Homo sapiens: one gene and its partners. The protein of the gene in region 4 purifies or fractionates together with the protein of the main gene of each other region. This does not show direct contact. Each region holds a gene or a part of one and is shown on either strand. Other genes may lie near its edges. The genes, in order: HK1, EIF3M, STK38, KCNJ2, UBE4A and AKAP5.

Region 1 (3,500 bases), on a different chromosome or scaffold from region 4:
CTCGGCCTCCCAAAGTGCTGGGATTACAGGCATGAGCCACCACACCAGGCCAAGAAAAGTAATTTATAATAAAATTATAAGATTTCACTATGCAAATGCCCAGGGTCTGCTATTCCAGAGGAAAAAAAATCCTCAAAAATGGCCAAAATGTCCCCTAGGGTCCCTACCACCCCCATCACAATCCACCAGCCAGGCGACCTCTGAAGGGTGGGCGCTGGCAGGGAAGACACTGCCCACTCACCTCTCGATCTGAGAGAGAAACTTGGTCTCAAAGATGCCCCGGGTCTTCAGCGTCTCAGAGATCTGCCCTCGGAAGAGGAATCCCTTCTTGGTGAAGTCGATTAAGATGTTGCGGACGATTTCACCCAGGTACATACCACTGATCATCTTCTCATACCTGAGACAGGAGGAGGGGCCTGGGGTGTCTATGGGAAGTGGCCAGGAGAACTGTCACCCCTCGGTCTCACGGTCACTCCGCGTCTCCTACTGCCCCTCAAGCGCATCATCAACAGCCATGTGCCCAGCCCTGTGCTCTGCCGCAGAGGCAGAGTGGGAGGACCAGGAAGGACCAGGGAGTCCTCCACTCTCTCACATCAGAAACAAAACCACCAGCATTCATGTCTACCTGCTAGACTGGTCTCCCTCCTCAGCTGCCTGATAGCTCTCAGCCCCAAGGTCACTTCCCCGAGAGCCTGTCCTCCTCCTGATCCTGGGTTCTACCTGCCTGTTTCAGGTTCCCACACACCTCACCATTCTCCTCCTTCACAACACACCTGAGCTCACTGCCTCCCACCACCACTGCTGTAGTGACAGCCCCAAGAGGACAGGGCATGTGTGTCTTTTTCAGCTCTGAGTCCCCAGGGCACAGCACAGCATAGCATAGCACTGGGCCCTCAGGAAAGTGCCCAAAAACTATCTGCAGAATAAGCAAATGACTGGGCTAAGTCTTAAAGGAACAAGAAGACAAAAAAAAGGAAAGTTTCTAGATTTTTCTAAAGGTTTTGCAAATACCCAGAGTACTGGTCAAGCCCACAGCAGAGTGATGAGGCCACACAGGAGGGAGAATTCAGTGACCACAACACACTGGAGGTCAACCTGTTCTTGGGACTTCAAATTTCCTGCCCTCTCCATGCTCAAGGATCTCAAGAAATAACAAAGGATTGATTCATTTCCATGGCACATGCCCAAGCCCAGTGTCCCAAAGCTGAGAAGAGTCCCCTGGAATTTGGAACTCCAGGATTCCTCCTATTTCATGTGGTCCATGGAAGAACATGAAACAGAATGGAATCACAGAGGGGTGGGCCACCACTACGAAGTCCCACCCAGTCCTTCTCATTCCACCACAAAGACCACCCCAGTTTGGTGCTGACATGTCCTTAACCCCTTCCAACACTTGCTGATCCCCCCGCTTTTTAACCAAGGGGGTCTTACTATTATTGTTGTTATTATTGTTATTAATTTTTAGTAGAGACAGGGTCTCAACCCTATGTTGCCCAGGGTGGTCTCAACCTCCTGAGCTCAAGCAATCCTCCCACCTTGGCCTCCCAAAGTGCTGGGATTACTTTGATGATAGACTGCACTCAGCCCAAAGGGGGTCTTAGTTCAGGTCATTTGGTAGGCGACAGCATCAGCTAGACTTGAATAGCACGGTTCTTCACTATACTCATTTTTTAGTTACCATCTCTTTATGGTACTATTGGTTCTTCCTCTTTTTCCTCCTTCATTAAATGTCAGTAAAGACCTTAAAGGCCACTGGGCACGGTGGCTCACGCCTATAATCCCAGCACTTTGGGAGGCTGAGGCGGGCCAATCACCTGAGGTCAGGAGTTCGAGACCAGTCTGACCAACATGGTGAAACCTGGTCTCTACCAAAAATACAAAAACTAGCTGGGCGTGGTGCCGTGCACCTGTAATCCCAGCTACCTGGGAGGCTGAGGCAGGAGAATCACTTGAACCCAGGAGGTGGCAGTGAGCTGAGCTCGCACCACTGCACTCTAGCCTGGACAACAGGGTGAGACTCTGTCTCAAAAAAAAAAGAAAAGAAAAGAAAAGAAAAAGACTATAAGGGCTGGTTGCGGTGGCTCACACCTGTAATCCCAGCACTTTAGGAGACCTAGACAGGCGGATCACCTGAGGTCGGGAGTTCAAGACCAGCCTGACCAACATGGAGAAACCCCGTCTCTACTAAAAATACAAAATTAGCTGGGCATGGTTGTGTATGCCTGTAATCCCAGCTACTGGGGAGGCTGAGGCAGGAGAACTGCTTGAACCCGGGAGGTGGAGGTTGTGGTGAGCCGAGATCACGCCATTGCACTCCAGCCTGGGCAACAAGAGCAAAACTCCACCTCAAACAAAAAGAAAAACAAAAAACTGTAAGCTGATTCGAAGAAAAGCACTAAGTAAATAACAGCATGGGTGGTATTTAGAAAAGGCAAAAACCTTGAGGGGGCTAGGGAGTGACTCATGCTGGGTGCTGCTCCAGCCCTTCTTTCTGCTCCTAGGGAGACAACTTGGACCAACTCATCCTGGCCGTGGCAGAGGATGGCCTGATTCCTGGGGGCTTGAGACAAAGGGCAGACACTGCCATTTCAGACATGGTACCTGAGACCTGAGCTGCAAAGCTCCACAAGGCCACTAGGTGGTGCAGGAGGCTCACGGAGGAAAGGACGATTGCGACAGGGCCTCTGCTTCACACCAACCTGCCGCCCAGCCACCCTCACCCCACCCCCTTGTTATTCTGATGGGAAAGGAACACAGCAAGGGGACCGGAAGGCCAGAATCCTCCAGGCTAAAAAACAGTCACAGGCAGCCCCTAGACAGGCATCAACCCTGGGCCATCTTGTACCATGTTGGGGGTCTGTCCTCCCTGGTTCTCTGCTGTCCAAAAGACAAAGGTCAGGAGTGAGCCAGGGGGTCCAGTCTTGAAACCTCTGTTCAGACCTCTCCTCCTAGAAACTTCTTCCACTGCAAGTGGCAGAATGCAGCCAAGTGCTGCCCCCACCCTGACTGTGAGTGTCCTCTCCACCAGGCGGGGTTACCTTTGTTTCCCAGCATTTAGGGAATATTCGTCCACCAGTCTGTCGTAGTGTGTCCTGATATCATCCAGACACCCGTTGTCCCCAAAGGCCCCCCACTCCATGTTGATGCACATCTGCCCCTGGTCCCCCTCCACCATCTCCACGTTCTTCATCTCCTCCATGTAGCAGGCATTGCTGCCGGTCCCTGGAACACACGAGGGGGCAATGAGGAGCGGTGGCCTTGCATTTGGGGGTCTTGCAACTGGGCCTGGGGTCTGGGGCCTGAGGTTCCACAGGCAGGGGGCACGTTTTTTGTGATGAACAAAGTAATAGTTTTTCTTTCCCAATTTTGAAATGGAAAAATTTGAAATGTAAATGGAGAGTCTGAGCCACATCACCCAGAGGGCACCTGCTTAGCTGACTTTCAACCAAGAGCCAATGTGTTCACCCGTCCAGGCAGGGTTATGTTTATTTTAATAGAAG
Region 2 (4,751 bases), on a different chromosome or scaffold from region 4:
GCAGGCACCTGTAGTCCCAGCTACTCGGGAGGCTGAAGTTGCAGTGAGCCGATTGTGCCACTGCACTCCAGCCTGGGTGACAGAGTGAGACAGTGTCTCAAAAAAAAAAAAAAAAAAAAAAGAATTTATTTTTATAGAATTTTTAACTTTTTCATTGGCAAGGTAATTTTTTTTACAGATGAAACAGTGACATAAATGTGAAATAACTTTCCAGGGTCATTAAGACACAATATGTGGTGGACCTAGGCTAGATATTGTGGCTCTTAGTCAAATGCTATATTATACTTTCTTAACTTTCACAATAGAAAAAATGTTTCTTCTGAAAGATTGATGCATATAAAACAAACTCAATTCACTGGCTGAATAGACATTTTCTAAGTGCTTATTACTATGTGCCAAGTACTATGGTAAGCTTCATTGTCCCAGCTTAAAGCTTGATTGCAAATTATGTAATGTGGGGCAAATTCAAAAGTAGATCTCCTTATAAATTTAATAGACCACAGTCACACCCATTCCTTTGCATATTGTAAAGGCTGTTTTGGCATGGCACTGAGAATTGAGCAGTTGTAAGAGGCCATTTGGCCCACAAAGCTGAAAATATTTACTCTGGCACTTTTTGGAAAAAGTTTATCAACCTCTGTTATAAATGAATTTTATGAAGACTTATAGCCAAAAAAATAGTTTTATTTTTCAACATATTTTATGTACAGTCCACATCAATTCTGTTAAATTCAGGGAAGGTATTAAGTACCAATCCACTTTCTCTCTATGGGTCCAAAGTAACTTGAAAAGATGGTATGTTTTTCATTCTTGTTTTCAGCATTAGATTGTTAGCCTACTGCAATCTTGATTATATCCAGGAATGAGGATGGAAAACCAGAGTAAGCAAAGCAAGCCACTTACTTTTTTTTTTATATATCCAATGAATTAGATTCATTTAAGTTTAATTTTAAAATATAATCACAGGCAGAAATAAAAGGACTAGTACCAAGCTAGGGGAAATTTTTAGGCCAAAAATTAGATTTTGTAAGTCAGGCTGAAAGAGAAACAGGTGATAAATTTCTAAAAAGGATAGGAGACGAAAGAACGAAGATACAAGGCAATATATCTGAAAACAGCTAGAACTAAAATTACTGCGGTAGGCTGCAGAACCCTCAGGTAAGTTAAACAGGACAAGTTTTGTTAAGCGCAAACATTAGCTAATCTACACTGTATCTTGTTTCTCTAAAGCCAATCCCTGCTCCTACCCCTCTCAGCAAGTGGGTAGTTAAGGGGAAAGAAACTAAAGCAAGTAAACGTGTCCTTCCTTTCCATCATCAAGATAAAAAAGTCAAAGAATCAGGATTTTGGGAAACTGTTAATTTGTACTTGGATGCCAAATACACCAAAATGAACCCAGCACTTTGATGGCAAAATAGGAAATATTTATGTAGGTTTTTATCCATTACTAGTTATTCTTTCCAGTAATAGCATCTGGGAACTAAAAGAAGCTAATGAGTAAACTGAAGCCCAGAAAAATTAAATGACTTGCCTAGGTTCTCTTAGCAGTCCTGTGCAGACACTTTTGGAAGAACAAAGCCAATCAGATAAATATGAACAAAGAATCACCCCAAAGATCAGAGGTAAAACTCTCTGAGGGGACCAGTGGCTGACTATAGGATTTCAGGGAGGGAGCCAAACAGAGCAATCCAAAAGGAACACTCCTTAGGGAGCCGTGAACTTACCATTCTAAACATTTAAGTTCATTAAAAAAAAAAAAAAAAAAAAGTATTACTAGGTCGGGCAGGGTGGCTCATGCCTGTAATCCCAACACTTTGGGAGGCCGAGGCAGGTGGATCATGAGGTCAGGCGTTCGAGACCAGCCTGGACAACATAGTGAAACCCTGTCTCTACTAAAAATACAAAAAATTAGCTGGGCATCGTGGTGGGTGCCTGTAATCCCAGCTACTCGGGAGGCTGAGGCAGAAGAATCGCTTGAACCTGGGAGGTGGAGGTTGCAGTGAGCTGAGATGGCGCCACTGCACTCCAGCCTGGGCGACAGTGCAAGACTCTGTCTCAAAAATAAAATAAAATAAACTTAGTACTACATAATCTAACACTGAAAATGACAATGTTACTAACATGCCACTTTTACTGGTCAAATTGAAAAAGATTTTAATGTAAGGCAGTACCCAAAGATCTTCACAAAGATTTATGAACAAATGATAATCACTGCAGCCTAGTTAACAGTGACCATTTTCTTACAATTTAAATGTCCAGAAATAATTTGCAGAACACAGAATATGATGGAGCTATCCTCTTAACAGACTTAAGAACAGGAGGAAATGCTAAAAATGTTTAACATAGCATATAAACCAATAAAAATATGACCCCAGTATTTAAAAAGTGTATACAGAAAAGAGACCAGAAGATTTACACAAACTCTTTAATGGTGGTTGGGATCTTGGGTGATTTTAATGTAATTCTTATCCTGTTTCATATTTCTAAAATACACGTGTATATCCCTTTCAACTAAAACACAACACAGTATGGCTCACTCCTGTAATCCTAGAACTTTGGGAGACCGAGATGGTCAGATCACTTGAGCCCAAGAGTTAAGAGAGACCAGCCTGGGCAACATGGCAAAAAATACAAAAATTACCTGGGTGTGGTGGCACATGCCTGTAGTCCAAGGTACTCAGGAGGTGAAGGTGGGAGGATCACCTGAATCCAGGGAGGTCAAGGCTGCAATGAGCTGTGATTGTGCCACTGCACTCCAGCCTAGGTGACAGGGTGAGACCCTATCTTAAAAGAAAGCCCACCATAATTGTTATTTTGAAAACAATTCAGTATTCCTTTTGTTTTATCTATTATTTATTTTTGAGAGAGGGTCTCACTCTGTTGTCCAGGCTGGAGTGCAATGGCATGATCTTGGCTCATTGCAACCTTCACCTCCTGGGCTCAAATGATCCTTGCACCTCAGCCCTCCGAGGAGCTGGGACTACAGTTGCATGCCACCATGCCCAGCTAATTTTTGGTAGAGATGGGGTTTTGCCATGTTGCTCAGGCTAGTTTTCGACTCCTGAGCTCATGCAATCCACTCGCCTCAGTTTCCCAAAGTGCTGGGATTACAGGTATGAGTCACAGTGCCTGGCCCAGTATTCCTTTTGAAGAGAAAATTTTATCTGGGAATCTCTCAAAAACATCAAAGATTGTTTTGCATGAAATTAACTCGAATTAATTTTTGGTAGGGATAAACTGGAAACAAACATTCAGTAGTAGGAGATATATCAAACATCCATAAAAGGGAGTATTTTGCAGCCATAGACAATTGTTTTTAATGACCTAAGAAACTGCTCACAGAGGAAAATACATAAAATTCTATAGAATGATCAAATAGGCTAAAAATAGAAAAAAACGCTAGCAGCAAATAATACCAAAATGTCAACAAGCCTCTCTGGATAAGGGATTACTAATGATTTTTAGTTTCTTTCTACTTTACTCTATTTTCTAAATTTCCAGTAAGTATTTTAACATCAGAAAAGAACCTTAAAATGAAAAAGTTATTTAACACACTATTTTTAAAATTACCCAATACAGTGTCTTGAAAACATGCCAACTTCCAAATATCTCACTGCCCTTCCTGTTTCTTCAACAATGGTGTTCTGAAGCATGGGAGGAAACATGAAGTAGTAAAAGGCAGTTTTTGTACACTTTACTTCAGTTATATATTAGAGATTTTGAAGATCTACTACATAAGCCTACACATTCACATTGTATACTTTTCTGGTGCCAGAACTACTAAGGTAGTGGAAATCAGCCAAGAGATGGTGGTTTTACCACATACTCATAACTGCAGAGGCTTTACAGACTCTTTAAAATCTTTTGTATAATAATTTCGAAGGTAAAATTAGTTTATCTTTCCCAGGTGAAAACAAAGCCTCTGATATCAACTCCACTACAAAGCCATTTGCAGGCAATCAAGACGACTAAAAATACTTCTGGTGATGATGACTGGCAGAGCCTCATTACGAATCAACTAAATAAAAGTGAAAATTTACTAAGTTTAGAAAATGACAACCAGCCAAAGAAAAGAAAAGCAGAAGAGACGTTGGAAAAAAACAACAGATTAAAATAATGTAGATAAGTGCTTTCAGTAGTGAAATTATGTAACTGAAATTCTGGTATAGTTTTTACTAGAATAAAATGACTGTTGTATTTAAAGCTCTACAGTTTGTCTTTGCTTTTCCAAGTTTTTCTAATGTGAAGAAATTGTATTACTCTACTTCTGTCTTCTCTCTGTATATTATCCTTTCTTTAAAGTGCTCATTGCTTCTTCAATATCCTTTTTTAAAGAACAGAATTTATGTATTGTATGACAGACATTGTGACCCCTTGTAATTTATTACTTCATATCCTCTGGAGTTTGTGATTTTAGTATAAATTTGAGACAATAACTGTCCAGACTAGGCAAATTTTTTTAGTTTATAATGTTTTACTATGATTTAGGGCTTTTTTTTCAAAGAACAAAAATTATAAGCATAAAAACTCAGGTATCAGAAAGACTCAAAAGGCTGTTTTTCACTTTGTTCAGATTTTGTTTCCAGGCATTAAGTGTGTCATACAGTTGTTGCCACTGCTGTTTTCCAAATGTCCGATGTGTGCTATGACTAAAAATTGAAAAATTAAACACAGTGTTAGTCAACCTTTTAGCCTCTGGTATTCTTTTATAATACTACAGATTTGAATCCAGTTAAAAGCAAGATTAAATA
Region 3 (5,284 bases), on a different chromosome or scaffold from region 4:
CGTCTCCTCCCTTTTTTATTTAAATATTAGAAACGACTCCGGAGATCAGCACATGCTCGGAAGGAAACAGAGTTTCTTCGTTTGAAGAGAACAAGACTTGGATTGGAAGATTTTGAGTCCTTAAAAGTAATAGGCAGAGGAGCATTTGGTGAGGTAAAAATCACAGCTACTTGTCAAGTAGAAAAATATTGCAAAACTTCAAAGCTTCTAACATACCATTAAGTCATGATTGTTGATATAACAAATATATGGAATTAAATGAGTCAGGCATGCCAGCCCCACATCCTAATTGCTTTGTCTGTCTGCTTTCTCTTTTTCTTCTCTCCGCAGTCCCAGATCTCTGTTCTCTGTTTTGCCAGAGATGGTGTTGGTGTTTAAATATTGACTTAGGGGGAGAGTTGAAAGGTAGAAGGAAATCAACATTTATTATTTACAGGCTGCTTTTTTCCCATAATCAGGACAGTAACCCATTTTATAGATGGTGAAATTAAGACTCTAAAGGTATATATAATGTCTCTTGTTATCACACAGCCATTGAGTACTGGGACCAAAAGTTGGGCTCTACTTCCTGAACTCAAAGAGCTTGCTTTTCCCAGTACTGCACTGCCTCTCGAGAAGGAAACTAATAGTGTATCTCCACCCTTTATTTCTCCCCACCAGATTGATACAGCTCTAAAAAGATGACCCTAGGAGGGAGGATTTACAGAAAGGAGTTATATAGGTAGTGGTGGAGAGTTGAAAGCATTTGCGACTTTGTCCCCGCAATTCTTGGAAATGATCCTGCTTGGGCACAAGAGCAATCTGTTGGGGAGAGCTTGAAAGAGCCCATGCAAGGTCATTCCTGTTAATGAAAAATGCCCAAACTGGATGACCTACTGACGCAATAATTGCAAGTATAAAAGGAGCAGTATATTATTAAAACCTGGTACCCCGGGGCCAGGCACGGTGGCTCACTCCTGTAATCTCAGCACTTTGGGAGGCCAAGGCGGGCGGATCACAAGGTCAGGAGTTCGAGACCAGCCTGACAACATGGTGAAACCTTGTCTCTACTAAAAATAGAAAAATTAGCCGGGTGTGGTGGCACGTGCCTGTAATCCCAGCTACTCAGGAGGCTGAGGCAGGAGAATTGCTTGAACCCAGGAGGCAGAGGTTGCAGTGAGCCGAGATTGCACCATTGCACTCCAGCCTGGGTGACAGAGCAAGACTCCATCTCAAAAAAAAAAAAAAACAAAAAACCTGGTACCCCGGGGAAATGTGAATAGTATTCAGAGGCACAGGTGATAGATTGATCCCTCAGTGTTCAGAATTCCTATTGGCTTCTTGAAAGAGGGAAAAGTATAGTACCACCTCTGAAAGAGCTTTCTGTTTGGCAAGGAAGGGTTGTGGTACTCAATTAGGAAAAACATGAAGAAAGGTTCAGGGAGAAGAAAACCTACTTATTTTGGGAGAAGAGGGGAGGACATGCAGGAACTTGCAGTGAAATTTTTCTTTTGGTTGTAAATTTTCTTCATAAAATTATCTGTTTTCTTTAAGAACATTGGAAAACATAAAAGAGAAGGAAAACTACATAAAACACAATTTCCCTAATTACACATTTTGAATTTTCTTCTTCTTCTTTTTTTTTTTTTTTTTTTTTTTGAGACAGAGTCTTGCTCTGTTGCCCAGGCTGGAGTGCAATGGCTTGATCTTGGCTCACTGCAACCTCCGCCTCTCGGGTTCAAGTGATTCTACTGCCTTAGCCTCCCGAATAACTGGGATTACAGGCACCTGCCACCACACCCAGCTAATTTTCGTATTTTTAGTAGACGGGGTTTCACCAGGTTGGCCAGGCTGGTCTCGAACTCCTGGACCTCAGGTGATCCACCTGCTTCGGCCTTCCAAAGTGCTGAGATTATAGGTGTGAGCTACCGCGCCTGGCCTGAATTTTTTGTTTTTCTTTCCAGACGTTTTTCCTAAGCATGAAGTTTTACTTTGTTATTATTATTATGATTAAGTGACAAGGTTTCACTGTGTTGCCCAGGCTGGAGTGCAGTGGCTGTTTACAGGCACGATCTCACTACTGATTGGCATGGGAGTTTTGACCTGCTCCATTTCTGAACTGGGCCTGTTTGCCCTTCCTTAGGCAACCTGGTGGGCCCCCCCTCTGCCACCCTGCTCCTGGGAGGTCACCATATTATGCTGAACTTAGTTCAGACACCTGATCAGCATAATGCACCATAGCTCATAACTCCTGAGCTCAAGCGATCCTCCTACCTCAACCTCCCAAATAGCTGGGACTACAGGTATACACCACCATGCACAGCTACTTTTGTTTTAATTAAACATCATTGTAATCATTTACTTAGATTTTCTGAGCTGACTGGATGACATGTGTCAGAGGTGTAACGAGTCCTTAAATTTGAAATTGAAGGTTTTAAATTAGATTGGCTTGTTCAACTAAGGAACCAAAGCTGTTCAGATGTAGAGGTATTTGAGGATGTTTCCAGCATCGACTTTACTGTGTGTAATGTATTCATTTTGGAACACTGAAAAGCATTTTCTTCTGCTTTGTTATTACTAGTTGCTCATGTTAAAATTGTAATACTTTTTCAGTTAATTATTGCATCCTATAACACATGAAAGCATTAGGTTGGTAGTACGAGTTTTTGACTTGGCATTTCTTTTATAACTTTTTAGGTACGGCTTGTTCAGAAGAAAGATACGGGACATGTGTATGCAATGAAAATACTCCGTAAAGCAGATATGCTTGAAAAAGAGCAGGTAAAGCACAGTTGTAGCAGTGCTTTTAGCTTATTAATTTTTGTCTCCTAAAACTTTTCTTTTTGTTTAATTGAAATATATATTTTTATTACAGTTTTCTTTAGCTCTGTCATGTATGACTATATATATAATACTACCTTTTTCCCCCTACAAAGAAGCAGTTCATATTTAAAATCACAAATAATGCCTGTAGGTTATATGCAATCTTTTAAAAATTGAAAATCTGTTCCAAAAGCAGCTCTTACTTGTGTCTTCCAATTGATCACAAGATGTCCTTATTGTGAGAGCCTTTTTTTTTTGAGGTCGTACGTGGTGTGGTAGTGTGTTTCTTACCAAATGCTGAGAAATAGAAATTGTATATATATCTCATAACTAAGGACTAGGAATTAGAATTTGGAATTTATAATCTAAAATGTGTCTTTATATGCTTCATTCTGTTTACCTAAACCAAAGTTGAGTCTTCTAGGTAGCTCATCGGTACCTGAAAAAGACCAGCCTTCTAATTTCTGAATGAATTTGAAAAATACAATGCAAATGACAGAACAATGCAAATTCTCCTTTAATGATAAAGGATACTTTCTAAAACCAAAACCTGGTTTGCAAATCAATTTATAAAGTGCCTTATGCAAAATAAATAAGGTTTTAAATATTGGAAAGTATATTTTAAAAAGCAAGAATAGACTTTCTATAAATCTAGTTTAATGTAGCTGGTTGCTTAAGAAAAGATTGCAGTGGGTGATGACCGCAAATGTCCTGTAAAAGATTTGATGTTATAGGAACATGGAGACCCTGTGACAAGGAGAACTCCTAATTTAGGGCCAAAGAGGGGGGATGGAGATTGGCCCCACATCCAATCCTTTCTACCTCTTGAGAGGAGATATAATCACTGGTCTTCCCTGTCTTCATTTAAATGCCACCCCAAAATTTGGAATTTTTATTTTCTCTCAAATTTTCATGTGTTACCGAGAAGCTTTAGACTCCCAGGAATTTCAGTTGGGAGTATCAAATACCTGGGCGGTAAGTCTTGAGACACTATAGTTTATGCTAACGCCAACCTTTTTCAAAATTCATAGTAGGCCGGCCTACTTACATACTATCTACAAATTAGTGTGTGGTATGGGTGTGTAGGCACTGAAAAAGTTTCAGTTAATCTTGAGAAGGAAAATATAAAGCTTCTGCATTAATTAGTATGTTTGCATCTCATGAGTAAGTTTTGTTTTTGCAAGGTATGTTTCCTACAGTTTTAACCAAGGCTTAAGACCTCTTTTTATTAAATATTAACTGTCAGAGTAATACTGCAAAACAAAGTACATATGATTTTCAGTTAGTAATTTTATGTATACCAGGTGCCCCGCATGGTTTCTAACAGAGGATGATCCAGACATAATGTGTAAAAAGCCTTTTCGCAAATATTGTGCCTTCAAAATCACTTTCTAAAACTTTCCTAAATGAAAGTAAAGAAACTATTAGAATTAACATTTTAAATGATGCATTAACTTATGGATTAAATGGTACATTAACTTAAATTGTTTAGCTCACCTTAGCTGAGAACTCAACTCCTCAACTTAACAGATCTCATTATGAGCCAGTTAAAGTCTCTGGCCACAGACTCTACCTGGCTTAGCCATCTTGAAGAAGCATGCATTGGTTTTGTGCTAGATAAAAGATGGAAGTAGACCAGTGCAAATTCATCACCATTTTGGGGTAGGGCTGACAAAGTAGAGGTACAGAGGCAAAATTGTTTTTTTGTTTGCTTTTACTAAATAAACTGGGTAGGAATTAAAGCTACCCACTGAGAGTTCAGGTTATTTTTCTGCTCCACGTGGTGGAAATTTTTGCTACCTGGAAAAATTTAAAGGGTAAGACATGACATCTAACTAGCTTCTGATGTTTCTCTTCCAGTGCAAAAGGAAAACCTTCAGTTGTGATGCCAGTATACAGTTATTGATGGGACAAAAAACTGGCTTTTATTTCTGCTTTCTTAGGGCACAGGATAGCAACTAGCACCCCCCACCTTATTAAATATTTATGGAATAGGGGAAAGAGAACCTTTTTGTATAAATTGCACCTCAGACTCTTCCCTCCCTTAATCTATATTCAGCCAACTCCACTTTCAAACCATGAGGTTTCTTGCTACTGTTTCAGCCTCAAGAGAAAGGCAAGGTGTGCTCATGGTAGCTTTCCCCTTGACAAACAGGAAATGTTATGGGCACCATTGTGTCCTCCAGGGTGAGTGACAAGTGGTAATTGTAGTGCCTCTCCTTTTCTCTGGCTCCCTGCAGTAGGTAGGGAGCTTAATGGGAGCCAGGGGAGACAGGCAGATGAAGGCTGCCTTCTACTGTATTAATGTCTTGTAGTGACTGGGTCCTAGCCATGGCTGTGGGGCAGCAAGCAATGTTACTGTTTCCCAAAAGCTTTGCTTCTGTATTAAGGTCAAGTAAAGGCAGATGCTTTACTTGGTTTCATTGTGTTTCATAGCACTGTTTCTTTTCACCCTTATTGTCCATTTTTTCCCACCCCAATA
Region 4 (5,284 bases):
TCAATAAAATTCAACACTGACTTTAAAATTACACAAAAGGAAAACTACACTGCAACAAAAATACACATTTGTGTTCATGTAGTTAGCAGCTTTTCAAAAATTAAGGCAGAGTCTTGCCTTTGTTATGCCATTAAAAACATCCTTGTTCCCTAAAGAGAAGCATTCTGGATAAATCAAATACCCAACCAAGGCTTGCCTGCAAGTTCAAGTTTTGGAAAAACACAAAACAAAACATAAAAACCCATAACTTATTCTACAACATCTATGTGCCATCGGGTCACATGGAGACATGGTTAGTGCTTTATGCTAATCATGGAGCTTACAGTCTTTCTTTGAAACCATTGTGCTTGCCTCAGTCCCTTGTGGCCGCTTGCTTGACCCATCTTGACCAGTACCGTCATCTGTATAACTGTTTTGGGCCTCTGACCAACAGACCGTGTTGTAAAGTAACTATTCCAGAGAAGGAATCAGTCAGTCATATCTCCGACTCTCGCCGTAAGGGCCTGGGCTCTAGAGGTACACTTGCCTGGTTGTGAAGGTCTATGTCAGGGGGCGTGTCCGTACTAGTGCTTTCTGGAACTCCATTTTCACTGTCGTCTTCCTCTTTGCTTGTGAGGGCAACTTCATTTTCATAGCAAAATGAATTTGCATTTGAGAGGATATATTTCTTTTCTGCTAAGTCTCTGGCACTACAAAGGGGAGTGTTGGGGACTTCGTAAGTTTTGTGGAACCTGGAATAGTCCACTTTGTAGTAGTGCTTCTCTTCAAAGAGCACAGGCTCATAGCGGTGGCCCCACAGGATTTCATTTGCTAGATAAGAGCTACGGCACTGTGTCGTCATGGCAGTGGCTTCCACCATGCCTTCCAGTATGACCACGATTTCAAAGTCTGCGTTGTCAATGTCCTGTTTACTCAAATCATATAAAGGACTGTCTTCATCTATTTCATGGACTATAGTGATTGGGGACACCAGAAATATACGATCGATTCCACTGTCAAACCCAACATTGATGTCTATTTGATCCAGAGGGATATACTCCCCTTCAGAAGTAATTCTGGATTTGAGGAGCTGTGCTCGAACATGAGCTTCCACCAAGTGGCTTTTCCGAAGATTGCCCACTCGCCACATCAAACACAGCTTGCCGTCTCTCATGGCAATCACGGCATTGTGACTGAAGACAAGAGTCTCGTTTCTCTTCTTTGGCTTTGCCATCTTGGCCATGACTGCGCCAATGATGAAAGCATCGATGATGCAGCCCACGATTGACTGGAACACCACCATGAAAACAGCAATTGGGCATTCATCCGTGACACATCTGAAACCATAGCCTATGGTTGTCTGGGTCTCAATGGAGAAGAGGAAGGCAGCCGTGAAGCTGTTGACCTCGGACACACAAGCTTTGCCCTCTTTGGATGCATCCAGGTCCCCATGGAGCAGAGCTATCAACCAAAACACACAGCCAAAAAACAGCCATGACAGGACGAAAGCCAGGCAGAAGATAACCAGCATCCACCGCCAGCGAATGTCCACACACGTGGTGAAGATGTCTGCGAGGTACCGTTGCCCCTTCTCACCCACATTGATGAACTGAACATTACAGTGGCCATCTTTCTTCACAAAGCGGCTCCTGCACTGTTGTCGGGTGTGGACTTTACTCTTCCCGTTCCCAAAGCCATTTGCAACTGCCATGGTGGCCAACTTCATACCGTCTTCTTCTGAAGAGACGATGCTGTAGCGGTTGGTTCGCACACTGCCCATCGCTTCTGCTGGGGACTCCAGTGCTTCTGCTTTGGAAAACAGTCTGAGTTTTTGCAAAACGCTTTGGAGAAACAGTTTTGAATGTTCGGTGAAGACACACACACCAAAAAAATGAGGAGAGATGGGTGTCTCTGGGAGCCTTGTGGTTCTACCAAGGTCTGTCTACTGACATGCAGAGTTACTTTAATGACTCAGCTGACATCCAGAGAACATGTCCTGCAAGAAAAGAGAGACTGTGCATTACAAAATAAGCCACTCTTAAAGAATTCTACTGTCTAAGACAATATATCCTAACAAAAACACATAATCAGGTAAAGATAAGTATAATTTACATTAAATTATAAGGTTTTAAATTTCTTTGTATCCTAAGCATGCTTTGTAAAACTTTTATTTAAAAGCATAAAGTCGTTAAACATAGAAGAGTTGTCTGTGACAGTTGTTCAACCAAAATGTCAGGTCAGGTCCCCTTTCCCTTCTTTTTGGCCAGGGATCTAGAATATTCTATTGTTCAGGTCTACCTCTCCCTTCTCTTATTCTCTTCTTCTGCCTGCCCCACTTGCTAGGATCCCTGTTAAGCAGATGAAAGACTGTCTGATTCCAAGGTTTGTCGTAAAATTTTTGGAAAAAGGACATGTTTAGAAAACTTCACGTGGACGCAGCATTGATATCCACTGAGTTGCATGTGCATTACGGGAGAATATTAGAGTCCCTGATGGCAAGGTTGAAATCGGAAGACAGACTATTTTGTTTAAATGATATAACTGAGCAGACCGGATAGGCTGACGAAATGCTAGAGGAAGAAAGTCAGATTCCCACCTACAAATAGAATAGTGAAGTGGATTTTGGAGTAGGCTTGACTGAGTGTGTATCCTGAAAATAGAGGGAACTAGTGGACAAAACCTCCTACGATGGTGAATACTGCCCCTATTGCTTATAATAATCTGAAATGGATCCCAGTTTCTGGATACTGTTTGGGCTTGCTTCATCACTTCTCACACTTTAAGCAACCACTATGCAGAAATGCCTGCTAAGTCTCTATTAGTACAGGTAATTCTGGCTTGAAGACTCTGAAGATGCAGGTTTGCTCTGGGGGATAGAGAGCAATTCTGTTGCCTAGCAATAAGAGCCCTGAAATTCTCCTGAGATGGGGCTGTCATGTGTAATGACAGGCTAGGAAGTAAGCACCGTTGTGCCAAAGGACCAGGTCTTTAGCGGATTGAGATAAGGCAGGAACTCATTTCATGTGAGTCCAGTGCTGTGTTCTCTCAGACAGAGACAACTGTGTAAGGACAGATCATAAATGCCAGTCCGCTTACTTTCACTTCCAGCGCTGTTATTTGGTATAGGTTCCTATGGAGAAGGCACTCACCTTTACTTAATATGTGCAAATAGTAGTTCTCAGTTTTCTCCTATTGCCTCAGTCTTCCCTAGCTAAGAACTATCTATGTACTTCAACTTTCCATCTTCACTCCTAAGAAACTATTTCCCTTGACTAACTAACAAAAAGCTAAGAGAAAGTCTAAGGTGTTTTCTTTACCAAATGTGTAATAACAAAACTAATAAGAGTTAGAACTGAAAAATAAAGCCCATCTTCAACTTTTCATACAACCAAATCCTTCTGCTATATTAAAGGGGGGCAATGAATAACTCATGAAAAGAGTCAGAAATTTGTTGATGCCTGATAATGAAGACTCCACTTTTTCCTTCTCCTCTAAATCCATTAAGATTAAACAGTTAATAGAACCGATATCAGCCAAGCCAGCCGCAAACAAATAAAGCAATCCATTTATGTTGTTTTTGTGCATTCCCTTAAGAAGAGGCAAGGTGCATTGCCTTTGAAAATGCCTTGTTACTGTCTTTTGACTTCTTCTTTATCCAAGTTATTATGCAAGAATGTGCCCCAACACATTTTTCCTGAGATTAGTCATCTTTGAAAATTGCAATGTGTGTTACATTTTGGCAGCTTTTGACACCTAAATGATGCTCAGTTTGAAAGTGCCTTTGAATTACTTTATAAAAAGAAGTTACTGTGCTTTCCTAACCTTCCACCTGCTTCAATGTTTTGTCTGCTTCCCTGTGAAGTTTGCACTTGGACCAAAGAAACAAGAATCCTGCCCCTCGAAGTTCTAGATCCTGTACATGGACAGCATTTTTTAAGCAATTATTTCATCTTAGTTTTCTCACATTACTAAACAGACAGAGACAGCAACAACACCAAACGCAGGTATACGTTTCAAAAAAAGGAGAAGAACTTCATTCAATGAATGCTTTGTATTTTTGAGTTCTGATTGACTTCAGAACTTTGTATTATAAGCTGACACCAAGAAATTCCCTTTTCATGATTCAAAACAATCCTTCCATGTGAGTTACCATTAGGGGCCATGAGTAGACAGTCTCAAATTTCTTCTGACTTATTTCTGTACTCCTTCCAGATTAAAACATAACAACCATATGAAATCTAAAGACTGAATTATGACTTTCCAAAAATCTTGACCCCAGGACATTTGTTTGAATTCCACAAATCACACAATACCAGCTTCCTATGAATAGCTTTCCACATTTAGAATCTTGAAAGTAGCCTGTATTGAGAGACTATTATTGTCTTATTTCCATTGCTAATAACAGAATTTGTTCCACATGTGGAGCATCATTTAGAAATTTTACCATTTCTTCCTGGAAAGAGAAAAAGAGGAGTTTTGGGCTTTTTTTTTTTTTTTTTTTTTTTTTGGCAAAAAGAAAACTTTTGCCACTTTAAATAGATATGCCCCCAAACAGATTTATGTGTGTATGCAGGTGCACACACATATATGTATGCAGACTTTTTGTGGAGCTGATTACATAGCTAAAGTCTAGAACCTGTCAAGGTTTGATGGGGTAACGGTCTTAATATTTCATGGTAAAAATTGCTTTTACTGTTAACCTGCCCACATGCCTGAGCGACTTTAAGCAAGCAGAAAACTTCCTTGCCCGGTCCTCTCACTAGCAATTACCAATTCGTGAGCAGCTGAGAAAAGCTATCATTAAAAAAACAGGGCTTACATGCAACTTTATTTCAAGCATATATTCAAAATAATGTTTGAGATGCAATCAATGAGGAGTAGATGAGAACACTAAGTGATACAAATCCAGAGAATTGAAATTTGATTTGATGAACAATGTGTAAATCTCCCTTCCAGCCAAAATATTTAAGGGTCTAGATGTAAATTTCATGGACACAAATAATCATTTTTATCCAGGCCATAACCCATGATGTAGAAAGTATTTTTGGGAAATTGAGAGGTTACATGTGGTGCTGTTCATGTTAAGACTATTTATAGGCTGAGCCAAAATTAAGCATAAGCAATGGAAAAAAATAGTTCAGCGTTTTAAACTTAGGTAGATGTTAAAGGAGAAAGAGCTATGGATAAATGTAAGGTCAAGGAGATCACATGGTACAAATGGGGGATCTAAATTGCTTTGACTATATAGGTAATACTTCCAATATGGCTTATAAATAACTAAAAAAAAAAATCAAATGAGAGTAAA
Region 5 (5,284 bases), on a different chromosome or scaffold from region 4:
GTTTTAGCCCTTTTTTAATGAAAAAAAGTTTGTGCACAGATTTGACATACGTGTGAAAAAGATGAGCTTAGTGAAAGATAGGTGAGAACCTTTTTGTTTTTTACAGATAGTAGAGATGACAACAGAGACTTATTTCCATCCACCATTCTACACATGCCAAGATACCAAAGAACCAGTGTCTAGCCTGGTAGCTTGACCTTCCACTGCAACCTAAGACAAGTAGTAAAGCCCTTACCTTGAAGTAGGGTCATGGGTGATGCTGTTGATTACAAGGAGTTCAGAAAGAACTACATGTAAGATTGAAGCCATTCAATAACTACTTATTTAGGATTTTGTGATTGTGATGTATAATGCCAGACACAGAAGAAAGAATAATCAGATATGAACATGTAATCAGAAGAGCTTACAGCCTAGCAATGTAGAAGATCTGCTTAGAAATACAATGCAGAAAGTTTAAAATCCTAGTAAAAATAGAGGTAAAATGTAGAAAGCTAGTTTCTTTATACAGTGCAACAGTATAGTATTGAGAAAGAAGGAAGTAATGCAGTTTATGGTGATAAATTCTTTTTGTTTCTCTTGATAGTCTTTTTGTTTGTTTGTTTGTTTGAGACAGTTTCCCTCTGTTGCCCAGGCTGGAGTGCAGTGGCAACGATCTTGTCTCACTGCAACCTCCGCCTCCCAGGTTCAAGCAATTCTCCTGCCTCAGCCTCCTGAGTAGCTGAGATTCCAGGTGCACGCCACCATGCCTGGCTAATTTTTTGTGTGTTTTAAGTAGAGATGGGGTTTCTCCATGTTGGTCAGGCTGGTCTTGAACTCCTGACCTCATGATCTGCCCGCCTTGGCCTCTCAAAGTGCTGGGATCATAAGCATGAACCACTGTGCCCGGCCTTCTTGATAGTCTTAAGAGCTTCTCTGTCATATGTCCTATATTCCTGGCTTTCAGCTTCCTTTCTGCTTACGTGTTGCAGGTGATGCATGTCCTTTGTAATAATCTGGACACTTTTCAGTTGTGTTTTAAAAAACATCAAACTGGTTTAGGCATTTAGGGAAATTTTATTGGTTTTTATAACTGAAAAGTCCAGACTTATCTTTCCATCTCTCAATTCTGTTTTCTAGTGTATGTTGGCTTGGTTTTAGGCTAGGCCTTTTCTAAATGGTGTAAAGATGGCAACTCTATCTTACTGGCTTATCAACTCAATCAGGAGAAAACTCACTTTTCCGTAGATTCAGCTGAAGTCCTGAAGCTGGTATTCATTGACTCTGTTAGGCCTCCATAGTGTCTTGTGCCCACTCCTGGATCAGTTGCTTTGGCTGGAAAATGCTGTATTCTTTTTAGCCTGGCCAGACTTGTATGTTCATTCCTGGGGCTAGTGGGTGAGGTCAACCCCTTCTGAACTGGTCAGCCTCTTCTGGATTGAGTGGAGTGGATACCCAAAGGAAAAAAATGAATGTGATGTTTTAGAGAGAGAAATAACAAGAGCTCAATATACTTTTTGCATTCCTCTGGAATTTGTGGTATTTTAGGATGGAAGTAGAATGGTGGTCAGCTAACAATAAGACAATTCTTGGTGTTTTTACATTAACTACAGGTAATAATTAAACTTGTGCGGTAATTACATGGGGAAAATCCCTCTCATTAATTTCAATACTAAATATGGTATCTTTCCCTTTTTTTGCATTATTAAGCTTACTGAAATATACATAGCAAAAAATAAAATACAGAAGGCCAGGCGCAGTGACTCATGCCTATAATTCCAGCACTTTGGGAGGCCGCGGTGGGAGGATCACTTGAGGTCAGGAGTTCGAGACCAGCCTGGCCAACATGGTGATACCCCGTCTCTACTAAAAATCCAAATAACAGTTCAATTCCTTGAAGCAGTAAAGCTTTGAGCTGCACTGAGAGGAGACTAGACTGCCTAAGTCATTACAGCTAATTAGCCGTTAGCTCTTGTGTGGAAAAAATGGCAGAGGAGCATGAAGCAAGTGCTGAAGATGCCTCAGAATTGTCAAGAAATGTTATAAATAATCTCTTTCTCTGGTAAATAAGGGTAACTTTTTCGACCACATTAGCTTTTTTTTTTTTTTTTTTTTTTTGAGACGAAGTCTCGCTCTGTCACCCAGGTTGAAGTGCAGTGGCACAATCTCAGCTCTCTGCAACCTCTGCCTCCCGAGTCCAAGCAATTCTCCTGCCTCAGCCTCCTGCCTCCCAAGTAGCTGGGATTACAGGCACCTGCCGCCATGCCTGGCTAATTTTCGTGTTTTAGTAGAGATGGGGTTTCACCATGTTGGCCAGGCTGGTCTTGAACTCCTGACCTCAGGTGATCCACCTGCCTCAGCCTCCCAGGGTGCTGGGATTGCAGGCATGAGCCACTGCACCTGGCCCACATTAGCTTTTGTTGATATGATCCTGTGAGGAGTCTTGCCTCAATAAACCAAAGGTAGACCAAATGTTCTTTTTTTCTTCCTTTATACCCCTACTCCCGCTATTTCTAAGGTCTCTGTCCTTATAGCAGTTCAAGATCCTTATGAACAAAACATTCATACCCTTTGTCTCTTCCCACCCTTTTCAGTGTTGTATTTAATATTTCTATGTCATGGCCTTAAAATTTCAGAAAGGGGAGAAAGCCTTTCAGGGAGCCCTGTTTATTCTGTTGTGCCACTGAGTTCACTTGGTCTTGAATGAGGAAATGTAATCAGAAGAGTGTGAATGCAGGCTCAGCCAGCTCTACTAAACACCTTTGAGGTATCTATATTTCATATTACACAGTAGACCTGACCGTTGGAATTCGTGTTTCTTCAGTATTATTTTAAGAAATCAGGTAAACAGTGAAGGTTAGATATAGCATGAAGCAAAGACCATTTAATTTTTAGTGGAAGAAATATCAGTATTTTTAAGCCTAGAAATAAATAGATTGCTTAATCTATGTTAAAAACCCACAACATACAGCTGAACTGCTTCCAGTCCTGATTTGCCAGAGTCCAAATCTAAGATATGGGCTTTTACTTAATTTATATGTAGCTGAGAAATATCCATCCCCAGCCCTAAGTCATAGAAGTCCCTTGTCCTCACCCCAGTGAATGAGAACTAGACTGCCAGCTTAATTCTTGGGAAATCCATAATTCTTGTCTTATTATTTTTCAGTGCCACATTGTTATTACAATTAGTAGGTGAGTTCTCTCTTTGACTTCAATAATTCTTTCTACTTAACCTGTTTTCTTAAAGGTATTGCAAATAAAAGTATATCAACAGATTAATGCATTCCAGCTGAACGTTTTAGCCTTTTTAGTTTCAGCTATCCACAAATCAAGCCACCGAGTCCAGCTGGTAGGTTTGTAACCATTTTGCCAAAAATGTCTTGAGTTTGGGGACAGGAATTGGAAAATCTTAACCCAAAGTATTTTAAAATGTATTGTATTTGAGAAATGGGAAAAGAAACAACCACAGGTATATTACAGCTATTGTGTCATCTGCCCTCTTGTGTCTAATACCTGTCCTTTGAACAGCCTCTCCCACTAGGTCTGGATGGAGGATACCTTAAAGTGAAATGACAGACCAGGAGAATAACAACAACATCTCAAGTAACCCCTTTGCTGCTCTTTTTGGCTCCCTGGCTGATGCCAAACAGTTTGCGGCAATCCAAAAAGAGCAGCTGAAGCAACAATCTGGTAAGTGGAGGAGCCAATAGCAGCAAATAAGATGACCTAGAATGGGGTCTTCCCAAATTAAGTATTCTTTGAGTCCTTAATTGCAATTGGAATTTAAGTTTGGAACAAAAGTTGGTTTTTGTTTGTTTGTTGAGAGCAGAAATTGGGGTTTTTTGTTTGTTTGCTTTTATTGTTGGTTTTGTTGTGAGTCCCTCCCCTCCGCTGTCCTCTCCACTGTACAAAAAGAGACCAGGTAACAGGTGGTTCCATAGTAACAGATGCCAGTCGTGATCCCAAAGCTGTCAGGCTGTTTTCTTTAAAAGAAAAAAAAAATCACCTAGTAAAAGCTATTTAAATAAATGTTTTTAACATGGGACACAGAGGTGGTAAGTGTAGGTGTAGAAAGCAAGTCATGTGCAGCTATAGAAAGCAGATGTAAAAGGAAGAACTATAAAAGCTTTTTGACCTGTAGGCAAATGAGACTTGTTCTTAAGCTCAGCACTTCAAAGGCCCTCCCAAGCAAAGTGCTTCTTCTGTTCCGATGAGTGGCATCATTTGTAGCTTAGTCCTGTTAGGACAGACTTTTTTAAAAAATCTGATCCTTAGCCTTACTATGAAAAACATCAGAATAACATCTCAGTAATCAGAAAAAATGGTTTTCTTTCAGGCACCGAATTTAAGATCAAGTCCAGCTTCCTCCTATAAGGAGACATATACACTAGAAGAATTAGGATTTTTCTCAAATATGTTAGTCTTCTGAAGATATTCACAATCTTTCAAACCAGAAATTGCTCCCCTTCTCCTCTCTCCGAAAAGAATAATAGTGTTTTTCTTTTGAGAGAAGGAGAAGTGTTTGCATTTTCCCTTTATTTTGTTTATTTAAAAAAAAAAAAAACACTCAGGTGCATAGCTGACTTTTGGCCTTTCAGTTAGAAAGGGCTGAAGAAAAAAGAGGTAAAGGCAAGACAGATAAGTGATTGATGCAAGGGAAAAACAAAATCAATGTTGATTTTTTTTAACATGGTATTTTCAGTCTCTGAAATCTCTCCCAGATTTCTATGATACGGGGCCAGAATGGGAAACTCTGGTTTAGAAGATTGTAGGGGAAAAAGCAGAGTGAAAAATAGGAAAAATAAGGAATGAGAAAGTATGATTTATGAGTATGTGGTTGAGGGAAATTTTGCTAAACAGATTCTTAGCTTCTGTCACCATTGGAGGTCAGAGAAAAACTCAACAGTATAGCAGCTGAGCAACAGAACGCTTGTCCTTCTGGCTATAAACAGACATAAATCTGGCTAGAGTTGGGAGCATTGCAGGCACATGCCCTTCTGTTACTATTTTGGCACCTCATCATCCTAGTTTGTTTACACTGAGTTTATCATGCCACCAGGTCCAACCTGTTTCCACTAGCAATTAGTACTTTGCCAAAACCTTTGGCTTCCTATGTTGAGCTTATACTCACCACACTGAAACAACTCTTACTTTGAGAGTTTTACCTGGACTTTCAGACTAGCCATTCTGTCAATAGAGAAAAGTACATATAGACTCATATGTGGCATATAGTGAATAACACTACTTTTATGTAGTCATTCAACATGAATGATGGGGCTGGGCGCAGTGGCTCGCGCCTGTAATCCCA
Region 6 (5,036 bases), on a different chromosome or scaffold from region 4:
AACAAATACCTTACATCTCATACTTCATCTTTATTACTTCATCTGTTTCAAGTAGTAACACAATCACTCAATTTACACAATGGGGGAATACACACTTTGAATCCTAACCTGTGAGGTAGGGAAGTGCACTCTGGTATTATGGCCATTTCACACAAGGAAAGATTGAAATAGGATTACTTTTTCAAAAAATATGGCAATCATTGATGAGATCAGATGCTTCCCTTTCAATATGTAAATAAAAATGCAAATAAGCCCTTCTCATTTTTGTAAAGTATATCTGGATTGAAAATAGTGATGAAGGCCGGGTGCGGTGGCTCATGCCTGTAATCCCAGCACTTTAGGAGGCCGAGGCGGGAGGATCATGAGGTCAGGAGATCAAGACCATCCTGGCTAACACGGTGAAACCCCATCTCTACTAAAAATACAAAAAATTAGCCGAGCGTTGTAGTGGGCGCCTGTAGTCCCAGCTACTTGGGAGGCTGAGGCAGAAGAATGGTGTGAACCCAGGAGGTGGAGCTTGCAGTGAGCCAAGATCGCGCCACTGCACTCCAGCCTGGGCGACAGAGTGAGACTCCATCTCAAAAAAAAAAAAAAAAGAAAAGAAAATAGTGATGAAAAAGTTAACTTTCAATATTCATGTAAAATGCTTTTTACTGGTCTCAACACACAGACATGAAGGAATACTGACATTTAAATTATAATGTGCTTTAGCAATAACTTTTCACTTTTCTATTCACCCACATTCATGGCTCATTTTTGGCCGAGAATAAATATTTGCACTAGATTATTAGGATTTTCCAGGACCATTACTACCAGGCTGGCTTTGAATCTACTCTCCCCTCTTTGGAGAGAAGTTGATGAATATGGCTCTTAAAGAAGTAATTCTGCAAGATGAATCCTATATTATCTGTGATAATTTACTTGGGAATTTTCCCTTCTCCTGGATGAAGAATAATATTCCCCTTGTTTTGTTTTTGCTGTTTCATTTTTTAACTTTTCACAGATAAATCCATGCAGAAATGGATATATACAGATCTGTTGAGGCAGAAAGAAAAGCGGGGGAAAAACCCACTCTCCCTGTTTCTACACTTTTGCACTTAGTAACAATTTGCCTGATTGAAGGATTTGTGAATGGTTCTCTTTTTTTTTTTTTTTTTTTTTGAGAAGGAGTCTCGCTCTGTTGCCCAGACTGGAGTGCAGTGGTGCAATCTTGGCTCCCTGCAACCTCCACCTCTCGGGTTCAAGCAATTCTCCTGCCTCAGCCTCCCAAGTAGCTGGGATTACAGGCGTGCACCACCACGCCCAGCTAATTTTTGTATTTTCAGTAGAGATGGGGTTTCACCACATTGGCCAGGCTGGTCTCGAACTCCTGACCTTAGCTGATCCACCCGCCTTGGCCTCCCAAAGTGCTGGGATTATAGGCGTGAGCCACTGCCCCTGGCCAAATAGCGCTTATAAGAGACTTAAGACTAGGAAACCACTCACGTTTAATATCAATATGCATATTCTGCACACTATCTGCTGAAATTGGGAAAATGCAATGTATTTTTTGAGTTAAGCCTGCTGCTTAGGAATGTAACAATTACAAATCACATTCACAAAAGTAGCTCACCTTATTCACCATTTTAAACATATATGTGCACTGTAAAAAATAAGTTTTTAAAAACTTAATGTGATGTTAGCCTATACACAGAGCTGAATTATCAAAAGGAAACCAGACTTTGTTATATCAGAGGTCATTAAAAAGCTTATGGCATACCATAAGTGCTCAATAAATACACCTTCCTCCCCCAAAGCACTCCAATCTCCATATGCCATTTTAGCAACTCCCTGTATGTTATGTCATTTTACACTGCAATCTGTGCTGACTTCCTCCAATCCAGAAGTGACTGCATTTCAGTGGTAGAGTTTTATAAACTTGACTTAATCTTTAGCACTTCTGCGCTGGAATTGTACCTTTTAAGTTCTAGAGATGATAAATCTCTCATTTGTTACTGAGTAAGAAATGCCACAAATGTATAAAAGAATTCTTCATTAAGCTTGTTTTTTCTGCCGTGACTCTGGAGAGTAAGTCACTGTAGAAGATTGTTTATTTTATTATCATCAGAGGCCATTTCATTAACCAGCTGTTCTATTGACAACTGAATAGCATTCTTGACTAGAGAAGAGGCTGTTTCAATTAAGAGTGTTTCATATTGTTCTGAAGTTCTATCCTCAAAACCATTATCATTAGCAAAAACCCCTACTTGCTCATTTTCAGCTGAAATTAAGAATTGCTTAGGGACATTTTTAGATTTTGTAACATCAAATTCACTGATTTCAGTGTCTGTAATAATAATAGCAATTGGCTCCATTCTTTTGCTTTCTTCTGATTTGGATTTCTCTTCAGTGATCCCATTTTCTTTAAAATCTGATTCTTGGCTCAATTCAGTATCTTTTGGCTTAGTTTCTTCAGCTACAATCTCTGTACTTTCATAGTCTTTTCCATTTGGTGCACTTTCTAGGGTACTGTTACTGGCTTCTTCCACAATTTGTTGATCTGGAATTGCAGGTAAAGGAGGAACATCAGAAAGTACTGGCTGCTGATGGTCTGTTTCTGAAGTTTCAAGTGGGCTTGCTTGCTGGGGTTGAACATCTTGTTTTTCCTTGATCGTTTCAATTTCTTCAAGGATTAGAGTTCCCGTTTGAATAGCAGAATGCCCATTATCTAATCCAAGTTCTACTGAAATCACTTTCTCTCCAGAAGTTGTGCTATTGCTCACATTTGATTCACAGACCTCATCACCATCTTTCCGTGAGATGCCTTCACTTAGATCCTGGGTTGACTTAGCCTTTGTTGCCTGATCATTCAATGGGGTCTGTGTTTGTATATCCAAAATTTCAGCTTCTTCCTGGACTTTGATGCTGCAGTCTGAGTCTTCTATAATTTTGGAATGATTACTCCTTTTTGGCCCTCTTGGGAATTTTATGCAGGGAATCTTAAGTCTAGATTTTGCCTTTTTCTTAGAAAGATCAGCATCCTCAGCATTTATTGCAGGTTGCATTTCACCCTCCAATGGCTTTTGCTGCTTTGAAGACTCTGACCTTTTCCTGCGTGTTACAAGACGTTTGAGTGAGGCCCAGGCCCCCCGTGTGGGCTCTGGCTGATCAGAAGCTCCTGCTTCTTGTGGACACTTCCTTGCCACATCAGCAGCTTCAGAGCCAGCTTTGGGCTTCAGTGCTTTGGCTGCTTTCTTTCTTCTCTTGAAGCAAAGCATGGATGCCTTTTCCTTCTGCCTTTCAGCCCCAGGACTACCTTCTGCTGATCTCTTCTCATCCTTGTTTTCTACATGAATTTCTGAAATTGTGGTTTCCATTTTTACACTGCACTCTTATTCTCTAGAAAACTGTATTCTCTCTTCCTTAGCAGCCTTTTGTGACAAAAAGATGAGCAAAAATGTCACACTAGGTAAAATTTCTTCCAGGCATATTCATACCTTTCATCTTACTCCATACAGTTGTTTTAGGTGGTTTCTCTAGTATAGAAATGCCCAGTTTCTCTATGGCTTGTAATTTCTCTCTTTAATTTCTTGATGAAAGCCCTTCTTTGGATAAATTTTTGCTTTATTTAAAGATCAACCTGATGAGAGAAAAGAAAGTGGTATTTTATTTCACTATGAGCCTATTATTTTCTGTGGAGACTATTTCAGTGAATGTATAAGATTCTACCAGGCATATTTTCCATATAATAACTTAATGAAATGACTGGAGAATAAACATTGGGGTTTACTTTGGCCCTATTAAAGAGTTCAGTGTGATTCTATTTTGTTTTATCCTCCTTGTTGAAACTTCATTTTGGATTACCCTGCAAGTCTGATATTATCAGTTCTTTAGTTGTGTTGTCTGTGTGAATTGCTTATGACTCTAAAGTGCAAGTTAAGCAAACAACAAGAACCAAAAATGAAGTGCAGGATGAAAAGCAAGCTGATGTAATCTTTATCACACTCAATAGATAATTTTAAAGCTGCAAAGGACTTTAGAGATTATTTGAGATTACTCAAATCCAGCCAGATGACAAAACTGAACTCCAGAGGGGAGCAGTTGTCTTGTCAAAAGCCATGCAACTAGATAAGGTCATAGCCAGAGTTAGAACTAGAGACTTTGACTCTCTAGTTTTACCATTATAACATAAGGTTTCTGTTCTAAAAATGTATGTTCCATCAAGGAAGTGCTATTTTTCATACATATTCTTAGGAAAATTTAGCATTACTGTCATTTCCCACTCTTAAATTAGTTGTACAATTTTGACATTTTCATTTAAGTACTGTATCTGCTGTATCACATGTTTCCACCATAATCTGCACATAGTTGGAAGTCAGTAAGAGTAGTAATAGCTGACATTTATTGAGCAATTCTTGGGTATTAGGCAGTGCATGCACTTTTACATACATCTCTAATCCTCACCACAATATTACAAAGATGGTGGTATCACCACGTACAGATGAAGCAATTTGGCTGAGATTACGGCAGAGCTGTAACAGAGCTCAGATTAACACAAGATTGCTTGTTGCTTAAAGCTTATGTTCTGAAACTGGGCTTTAAGAGTTTCGTCAGAAAATGAATTGTTTGGGGATACTAATCTGCAGTGTTTCATTAGTAAAAAAATTAAAAAATTGATTAATGGTCATTTAACCATAAGGCACTTATCAACTCATAATTGAACCACGAGTAGACTGAGTTCTTGTCATTTGAAAACCAAGCTTTTGAAATTCTTTATATTTTATTTTTTTGGTTCAGGAACTAATTTAAAAGCCAAAAATAAGTTGGCAAACTATGCAATTGGCAAACTTAGATAATATAAAGGTGTATTGAAAATTTAATCCTTAGAATGGTATGATGGCACCAAAGAATGGAAATGGGAGGTGATTATCCAACAAAGATCCTATGAATTTTAGTGGGTGGATGCCCTAAAATAAGCAAAGGGACTCATTCTTTATATTGTTTTTATGTAAATCCTTCACTGAAGTTTCATTTGGGTAACCCATAATTTTATGAAC

Evidence for each region.
Region 1: the proteins of KCNJ2 (region 4) and HK1 purify together in Homo sapiens (affinity purification with mass spectrometry, with the first as the bait; one large-scale study listed by BioGRID). This does not show direct contact.
Region 2: the proteins of KCNJ2 (region 4) and EIF3M purify together in Homo sapiens (affinity purification with mass spectrometry, with the first as the bait; one large-scale study listed by BioGRID). This does not show direct contact.
Region 3: the proteins of KCNJ2 (region 4) and STK38 purify together in Homo sapiens (affinity purification with western blotting; one study listed by BioGRID). This does not show direct contact.
Region 5: the proteins of KCNJ2 (region 4) and UBE4A purify together in Homo sapiens (affinity purification with mass spectrometry, with the first as the bait; one large-scale study listed by BioGRID). This does not show direct contact.
Region 6: the proteins of KCNJ2 (region 4) and AKAP5 purify together in Homo sapiens (pull-down; one study listed by IntAct). This does not show direct contact.

What each region holds. Positions count from the first base shown.
Region 1 is NC_000010.11:69,391,847-69,395,346, reverse strand, and holds part of HK1 (hexokinase-1), read right to left. Parts: intron 3,223-3,500; coding exon 3,039-3,222; intron 398-3,038; coding exon 242-397; intron 1-241. UniProt on the Homo sapiens protein: Catalyzes the phosphorylation of various hexoses, such as D-glucose, D-glucosamine, D-fructose, D-mannose and 2-deoxy-D-glucose, to hexose 6-phosphate (D-glucose 6-phosphate, D-glucosamine 6-phosphate, D-fructose 6-phosphate, D-mannose 6-phosphate and 2-deoxy-D-glucose 6-phosphate, respectively).
Region 2 is NC_000011.10:32,602,177-32,606,927, reverse strand, and holds the end of EIF3M (eukaryotic translation initiation factor 3 subunit M), read right to left. Parts: intron 4,650-4,751; coding exon 4,529-4,649; 3' UTR 4,118-4,528; coding exon of another isoform or gene 3,908-4,117; 3' UTR 664-3,907; downstream 1-663. Other genes in the region: CCDC73 (coiled-coil domain-containing protein 73), read left to right, coding at 3,908-4,117. UniProt on the Homo sapiens protein: Component of the eukaryotic translation initiation factor 3 (eIF-3) complex, which is required for several steps in the initiation of protein synthesis.
Region 3 is NC_000006.12:36,519,210-36,524,493, reverse strand, and holds part of STK38 (serine/threonine-protein kinase 38), read left to right. Parts: intron 1-30; coding exon 31-153; intron 154-2,676; coding exon 2,677-2,760; intron 2,761-5,284. UniProt on the Homo sapiens protein: Serine/threonine-protein kinase that acts as a negative regulator of MAP3K1/2 signaling. Converts MAP3K2 from its phosphorylated form to its non-phosphorylated form and inhibits autophosphorylation of MAP3K2.
Region 4 is NC_000017.11:70,171,515-70,176,798, reverse strand, and holds part of KCNJ2 (inward rectifier potassium channel 2), read right to left. Parts: intron 1,976-5,284; 5' UTR 1,760-1,975; coding exon 476-1,759; 3' UTR 1-475.
Region 5 is NC_000011.10:118,361,536-118,366,819, forward strand, and holds part of UBE4A (ubiquitin conjugation factor E4 A), read left to right. Parts: intron 1-3,504; 5' UTR 3,505-3,545; coding exon 3,546-3,666; intron 3,667-5,284.
Region 6 is NC_000014.9:64,466,715-64,471,750, reverse strand, and holds part of AKAP5 (A-kinase anchor protein 5), read right to left. Parts: intron 3,620-5,036; 5' UTR 3,357-3,619; coding exon 2,073-3,356; 3' UTR 1-2,072. UniProt on the Homo sapiens protein: Multivalent scaffold protein that anchors the cAMP-dependent protein kinase/PKA to cytoskeletal and/or organelle-associated proteins, targeting the signal carried by cAMP to specific intracellular effectors.